Linked DNA regions of Homo sapiens. The protein of the gene in region 2 purifies or fractionates together with the protein of the main gene of each other region. This does not show direct contact. Each region holds a gene or a part of one and is shown on either strand. Other genes may lie near its edges.

Region 1 (4,255 bases), 440 kb from region 2:
GCTAACCTGGTGAAAATCCCTGCTCCACTTCCAGGCTGTGCTTTTAAGGAATTTGGACATACTCCTTATCTTTCAGTACTTTGCTTTCCTTACCTAAAAGGAGGATAACATTCCTTCAAGGCTGTAAATAGAGTGCTGTGTGTAAAGCACTCGGCACAACGCGTTTGTGTGGGGGAGACACAGTATGTGCATAAGAATTGGTAGATGATGATGGTGATGTTTATGAAAATCCAATCATGAATAGCCGGAGGCCACTGTTGTCAACGAGTGATCCCTGTAACAGCGACGTTAGCTACACTGAGAACTTACACATGCACATTCTCAGGCCCATTGCAGACCTCCTGAAACGAGAACTCGGGAGGCAGGGCCAGGCAATTGGCACTTTGCCTGAAGCACTCACGTTTTGAGAACACCTGTCAGGTAACAGGGAACCACTGAAAGTTTTTGGACGGTGGAGGAATGCGATATAAATGACTGTTGATTCACTGGCATTAAAGTGCCTAACTACCGACTGGCTTCCGAGGTTGCCGGAAGAAACCTGTTGGTTGATCCTTAGTGATCTCCAGGTTACAAAATGCGGGTTGGTACTAAGGGCCCCAAACACAGTGCTCACCTACCGAGCGCAGCCAGGAGCGCAGCGCCAGACAATTACAGGAGCTGTTTTGGATATGGCCGGGCAGCCCAGCGATGCTCAGCGAATCCCACAACTACAACCACAACCGTACCACACATTTAGCCTGCAAAAGCAGAGAAAGGAAAAGAAAACCGTGCAGGGAAGCCGGAAACGAGGGACTTAAGGGTCTCCTCTCTAGGGTGTGGGAGAGTGGGGGATGGGGCGAATGGGGCGAGGAGGGGGCGAGGATCGAGGGAGGCCCCTCCTCCGCTCGGCAACACCGGGTTCGGGTCCCTCTAGAGCCGGGACGCGGCCGGCGGGACACACCCTTGCCCTGGGAGACGCGAGGGTCCATGGCCTCTTAGTGTCGGTCCAGCTCAGTTTCGTGTCATTTGTTGTTAGCGCGAGGTAGGGGCGTTTCCCCACCCCAGCTCCTCCCCGGGGAAATCCCAGCCCGCTTCCTCCCCGCTCCTGCAGTTTTCGGGAGCGCCGTGCGGGGTCGAGCGCGGAGGCCGCACCCTGGGCGCCGGGCGTCGTGTCGGGACCGCTGCCCGCGCTGCCCGCCGGCGCGGCCATTGTTCGAGCCCCACCCCTGATGAATATTCACGCCGCGCGGGCGCCTCGGCCCGCGCCCTACCCGGCAGGGCTCGGGGTGTGAGTGCGTTTCCGCCGGTTTTTCCTGCCTGAGGAGGAAAGGGGGAGCTGTTTTCTCTCTCCTCAGAATATATTTTTGGTGTCCCGTTTCTCCTCCTCCAGCGCCGCCGCCGCCCCCTCCCTCCCCACCTCGCTCCCCGCCTCCGCCTCCGCCTCCCGGGTTATCTTTGTCTCGCTGCCTCGCGCTCACTCGCTCAACTCGGCGCCGCCGCGGCCCCACGCTCCGGGCCCGTCCTCGAGGCGCGCGGCGCGGGGCGCGGGCGCCGGGGCCTGAGGCGGCGGGCGACGCCCGGGGGCCTGACGGCCGGCCCCGCGCCATGGTGTGAGCGCCGCCGCCCGTGCACGCTCCGTCCGCCCTCCGCGCGGCCCGGCCGGCAGAGAGCCCCGAGCGGCCCGAGAGCGCAGCCGAGCCCGCCGCCGCCGCCCGCGGCCCCGCGAGGAGAGTACCGGGCCGGCTCGGCTGCCGCGCGAGGAGCGCGGTCGGCGGCCTGGTCTGCGGCTGAGATACACAGAGCGACAGAGACATTTATTGTTATTTGTTTTTTGGTGGCAAAAAGGGAAAATGGCGAACGACTCCCCTGCAAAAAGTCTGGTGGACATCGACCTCTCCTCCCTGCGGGTGAGTGGGCCCGCGAGCGGGCGCGCGGGGAGCGGGCAGCCGGCAGCCGGCAGCCGGGGCCGCGCCCAGGTCGGCCGGGCGCTCGGGCGCCGCCGTGGGCAGAGCCGCGGGGCGCGGCGGCCCCTTTGTCTTCCTGTGCGGGCTGGTGCGGGGCGGGCGCTACCCTCTACCGCCCCCACGCCCCGAGCCCGCCGCGCGACCCCCGGGCGCTGGGGGACCGCGCGGGGCGAAGCCCACCTCTTTTGTCACCGCCTTTTCTCTCCAACTGCCTTGCTTGATTTATTCATTTTTTTGGCTTCTTTTAAATGATAACCCCTCCCCTCCTTCCTCTCCAGGATCCTGCTGGGATTTTTGAGCTGGTGGAAGTGGTTGGAAATGGCACCTATGGACAAGTCTATAAGGTCGGTGTGGGCGCCTTCTTTGTTTCCCGTGGCATGTGGAAACTTCTTATTGGGGGACGAGGAGAGGGTGATAAACATGCTGCTGACTGGAGGCCACGCCGCTTGGCCAAAGTTGGGAGAGGGGTTTCTTTCGCCTTGCAGTCCCTCTGTTTTTGCACACCGAGTTTATATTCAGACTGGCCTTAAAAGACCTCATTTCCTGGCTTTGAGATAAGGAAATAAGCTACACTCTTAGGCATGCACTTTACTTCGATAAAATGGAAAAGCATTTTTTAAAAATAAGACAACCTGAATTTTTTCTTTTTTTCCCCAAATCCGGCCTTCTGAGTTTGTGTGTAAATTGAAATACAGTGGAGGCGGGCCTTGCCTCTGACGATCCTAAACCACTGCTTTGGCCATCGTGAAAATTGTCATCATGTTTCAGCCTCCACTCAGTGCTTGCCAGTTGCTCAAGGTGGGGAGTTTGGCGTTACCTGGGAATACTTTATAACTGTGGTTGTCATCCTTTCTATTGATGGATACGTATTTTGGGGAAGCAGGGAGGAGTGTGTGTTTGGGCAACAGCAGCAGGAAGAATTACAGTGTGGGGATTATAAAATCTGAATTCCAGGAATAACCTGTTTGACAGCTGTGTAATTGAAACAGAAATGACAGAGAGCGAAGAGAATATAGAGGATGCCCTGGTTTACACCCACCCAGGTCTTTCTCTTTTTTCAAAATTTTAACACCCACCCTCCACCCCAGCGATAAATGAAACTAGCAAATCTGGAGACTGAGTCTGCGCTGAGTAGCTGACACCTGATGTGACTAACAGTGTTCATTTTATACATTGTACAGTCTAGAGATTATGAAAGATGTGTAGGGAATGGAGGCGCAGGCCTTGAAAATTCAGAACGGAATGTTAAATTTTTCCTGTCTTAATTTGTTTCTCAATACTGAACGTTTTCTAAAAGTTTAATCTGCACTGGGGGAGTGTTCTGTTAGAGTCGGTACAAGGTTAGGGAAGCAGGGCTCTGTGGTTCACCATGAAGAATTGTCATTGTCTCATTAAAAATGGGTGGAGTTGGGGGGGTTGGAAGCCGACTGTAGACCTTTTCTTAGGCTAGATTAAGTGTGGATCTTATTGTCTCTTTTCTGCGTTGTGAGTAGAGTTTATCTATCACTTGAACGCCTCTCCTTAGCCTAGACTTCTAGCCTGGGTAGTGTACTGTACTGGACTGTGGTCCGAACTTGGGTCAGTATTCTTAGGTGATCTCAAGTGTATTAGCTTGTGTTTTGTTGGTTAACTGTTCGGGCCGGGGCCAGATTTTTGAATTTGAAAGAGAGCCCCGTTAACTCAGCTTGCCCGGCTCAACTGAATTTGGAAGGCTTTGGAAAATTTTGGAAAAGATTGTGTTGCAACTCACTGAGTGGTTGGTAACTGGCTAAAAGACATTCTCCCCGGTCTGTTGTTTGTTTAAGCACCAGTCATTTTTTTTCTAACCCAGTTTTTTCTCGCCAAATTAAATGGTGATTGTAGTCTTCCAAGTGAATTAGCCAGAGCTTGTTTTTGACCTGGCTACACAGTAGTTGGATTGTTTGTGTCTTACTTGGTCAGCATGGATGTTAAGGGCAGAGAAGTAAGCTAGAAGGCGATATAGTCTTTAAACCTTAAGAGAAAGGAAAGAATGAAACCCCAGTTTGTCTTTATTGGTTTTAAGAGGTGGGAGCTGTTTATGGTAAGAGTTTAGTCAGGTTCATTGTTATTTCCCCTCATTGCCATTTTGGTTCCATTCCCCGCAACCTTCCCGAGCTTTTGAACTAGGTTTGCTGAGCGCTAGCTACGTTTGGTAGGTATTTGGGATACTGGCATGACACAGCTCTCTGACTACAAAGTCGGTACAGTTGAGAATTTCTCTAATTATGCAAACCTAGGGAATTAAATCTGTGCAAAAGTTGCCTACAGTCCAGAACAAAATAGTGCCTGAG
Region 2 (3,500 bases):
CCAGCACTTTGGGAGGCCAAGGCAGGCAGATCACTTGAGGCCAGGAGTTGGAAGCCAGCCTGGCCAACATGACGAAACCCCATCTCTACCAAAAAATACAAAAATTAGCCCGGCATGATGGTGCACTCCTGTAATCCCAGCTACTCAGGAGTCTGAGGCAGGAGAATTGCTTGAACCTGGGAGGCGGAGGCTGTAGTGAGCTGAGATCGCGCCACTGCACTCCAGCCTGAGCAACAGAGTGAGACTGCCTCAAAAAAAAAAAAAATAGTGTAGAAGTTGAGGGATTTTGTGCAACCGGGGTGTAGGGTACATGGATGGGAGAGAAGGTCAAGAAGTGAGATTAGGAAGGTGTGGTGGGACCAGATTTTGAAGGGTCTTGTAATGGTGTAGAAATCTGGGTTTAATTCTGTGTACACAGGTTAAGTAATGTGATCAGATTTGTACTCTAGAGATATAACTAAATGGTAAGAGGAAGTATGGACTATGGGTGGTGGGTGAGCAGGGGTCAAAACTGGGAGCTGGGGAAGTCAGTAGAGGGGGCAGGAGTAGTCCCAGCAAGAGAGGCGTGGGGACTACATCTGAGGGAATGCAGCCTGGTGACATTTCTGCAGTGGGAGAGATGAGGCTTCATGAGCAATTAAACATGGGACAAAAGGGAAGGAACATTCAGCCTTGTGGGAATTTGTAGCTGCATTGTGTGTTGAATCAGGTAGTGTATTTGGATAGCTGCTGGTTGCTCTTCTATTTATTCAACTTCTACACAGTGGAAACAGAGAAGAAAGAAAAGCATTTCCGAGCACTATAGTGTTGTCTGTTTTTGTTTGCATATATAAGCTTTAGCCTTTGCAGGAATTGAGGCACTTTAGAAAATGCAGTTATTGGGCCAGGCGTGGTGGCTCACGCCTGTAATCCCAGCACTTTGGGAGGCCGAGGTGGGTGGATCTCGAGGTCAGGAGATCAAGACCATCCTGGCTAACACGGTGAAACCCTGTCTTTACTAAAAAGTACAAAAAATTACCTGGGCGTGGTGGCGGGCGCCTGTAGTCCCAGCTACTCGGGAGCCAGAGGCAGGAGAATGGCGTGAACCCAGGAGGCAGAGCTTGCAGTGAGCCGAGATTGCACCACTGCACTCCAGCCTGGGCGACAGAGCGAGATTCCATCTCAAAAAAAAAAAGAAAAGAAAATGAAGTTACTAATGTGAGAGTTAAAGAGGAAAGAAACACCAGGCGGGGCACGGTGACTCATGCCTGTAATCCCAGCACTTTGGGAGGCTGAGGCGAGTGGATCACCTGAGGTCAGGAGTTCAAGACCAGCCTGGCCAACATGGTGAAACCCCGACTCGACTAAAAATACAAACATTAGCTGGGCATGGTGGCAGGTGCCTGTAATCCCAGCTACTTGGGAGGCTGAGGCAGGAGAATCTCTTGAACCCGGGAGGTGGAGGTTGCAGTGAGCCAAGATCATGCCATCACACTGCAGCCTGGGAGACAAGAGTGAGACTTCATCTCAAAAAAAAAAAAAAAGCCACAAAACGCAGCTTGGCAGTCAAAGACAGATTTTCTTTAGTTAGAACCTGAGAAGCACTCCTGGCCGATGTTTTAACTAAAGAAAACCTGTCTTTGACTGCCAGGCTGCGTTTTGTGTTTCTTTCCTCTTTCTTTAACTCTTACAGTTAACAAGTACAAAAACCTTAAGTTTCATTTGTAGGGCCACAGATCATAGAATTTCAAATGACATATTACATAGTTTGTAAATGTATATATTTGGTTGACTGAAACTTAATCATAATTTAGTTCTTAAAACTATGTGGCTTGAAGTGGCAAGTAGCAAGTACTGATTTTACCAGATTCAAGTTGATTTTTAAAAGTAACCATTGGAGAAATCGTTATACATTTTTGTTTGCAGGATTTTTACCTCCTATAACTCCACCAGAAAAGTTTTTTCTTTCCCAGCTGATGCTGGCACCCCCACGGGAACTCTTCAAAAAGACGCCTCGCCAGATTGCACTGATGGACGTTGGAAACATGGGCCAGTCTGTGGACATTAGTGGGCTTCAGTTAGCCTTGGCCGGTAAGGAGGAATCAGTGTTTTGGGCATTTCTGTGTGGTAATATTAGGCCTCTCTTGTTGAGGACTCTACTAAAATGATGTTTTTTGTAACTGCTAAAAGGTTAGTATCATCCATTTTAAAAAGTAGTTTTAGTACTGGATCTTAAATGGAAGTCTTGGCTGGGCACGGTGGCTCACACCTGTAATCCCAGCACTTTGGGAGGCTGAGGTGGGCAGATCATTTGAGGTCAGGAGTTTGAGACTAGCCTGGCCAGCATGGTGAAACCCTGTCTCTACTAAATATACAAAAAATTAGCCAGACATGGTGGTGCAGCACGCCTGTAATCCCAGCTACTCAGGAGGCTGAGACAGGAGAATAGCTTGAACCCGGGAGGTGGAGGTTGCAGTGAGCTGAGAACAAACCACTGCACTCCAGCCTGGGCTACAGTGAGACTCCATCTCAATAAATAAATAAATAAATAAATAAATAAATAAATAAATAAATGGAACTCTTTAAATTTTTGGATGCTAATAGCATGTAAATTCATTTGGAGTTTTCACTTGAATTGATTGCTTTTTCTGTTTTAGAAGAAAGCTGGATAAAATTTAGTGGGTTTTTTTTTAAGTTTTGATTGGAAGACTTACTATTTGTTAAAATGTCAATACTACCCAAAACAATCAACAGATTTGGTGCAATTCCTGTCAAAATTCCAACAGTGTTTTTTGCAGAAATAGAAAAATCCGGCCAGTCACAGTGGCTCACACCTGTAATTGGGAGGCTGAGGCACAAGAATCACTTGAACCTGGGAGCTGGAGGTTGCAGTGAGCTGAGATTGTGCAACTGCACTTCAGCCTGGGTGACAGGGCGAGAGTCTGTCTCAAAAAAAAAAAAAAAAAGAAAAATCCATCTTTAAACCAAAGAAAGGCTGGCATAGTAGCTCATGCCTGTAATCTTTGGGAGAGGCCAAAGTGGGAGGATCGTTTGAGGGCAGGAGTTCAAGACTAGCCTGGGCAACATAAGGAAACTTTGTCTCTGCAAATAATTAAAAACTTAGCCGGGCGTGGTGGTGCATGCCTGTGGTCTCAATTACTTGGGAGGCTTAAGTGGGAGAATCACTTGAGCCTGGGAGATCGAGGCTGCAGTGAGCTGTGATTGCGCCACTGCACTCCAGCCTGCACAATATCGTGAGACCTGTCTCGGGATGCTGAATAGCCAAAACCCAACGTTCTCTTGGCATCCTTGTTGAAAATCATTTGCCCATATATGCAAGGGTTTATTTCTGGGCTTTCTATTCCATTCTATTTGTCTATATGTCTGTCTTTCTGCCAGTACCACACTGTTTTGATTACTGTAGCTTTGTACTAAGTTTTGAAATCGGGAGGTATGAGACTTTCAACTTTGTTCTCGTTCAGGATTGTTCTGGCACATTCTGTGTTAAACCTGTAAGCAAA

What was found.
Region 1: the proteins of CNOT11 (region 2) and MAP4K4 purify together in Homo sapiens (affinity purification with mass spectrometry; one large-scale study listed by BioGRID and IntAct). This does not show direct contact.

The regions. Positions count from the first base shown.
Region 1 is NC_000002.12:101,696,252-101,700,506, forward strand, and holds the start of MAP4K4 (mitogen-activated protein kinase kinase kinase kinase 4), read left to right. Parts: upstream 1-1,455; 5' UTR 1,456-1,829; coding exon 1,830-1,886; intron 1,887-2,013; exon of another isoform or gene 2,014-2,191; coding exon of another isoform or gene 2,192-2,221; coding exon 2,222-2,287; intron 2,288-4,255.
Region 2 is NC_000002.12:101,255,886-101,259,385, forward strand, and holds part of CNOT11 (CCR4-NOT transcription complex subunit 11), read left to right. Parts: intron 1-1,905; coding exon 1,906-2,070; intron 2,071-2,929; exon of another isoform or gene 2,930-3,500. UniProt on the Homo sapiens protein: Component of the CCR4-NOT complex which is one of the major cellular mRNA deadenylases and is linked to various cellular processes including bulk mRNA degradation, miRNA-mediated repression, translational repression during translational initiation and general transcription regulation.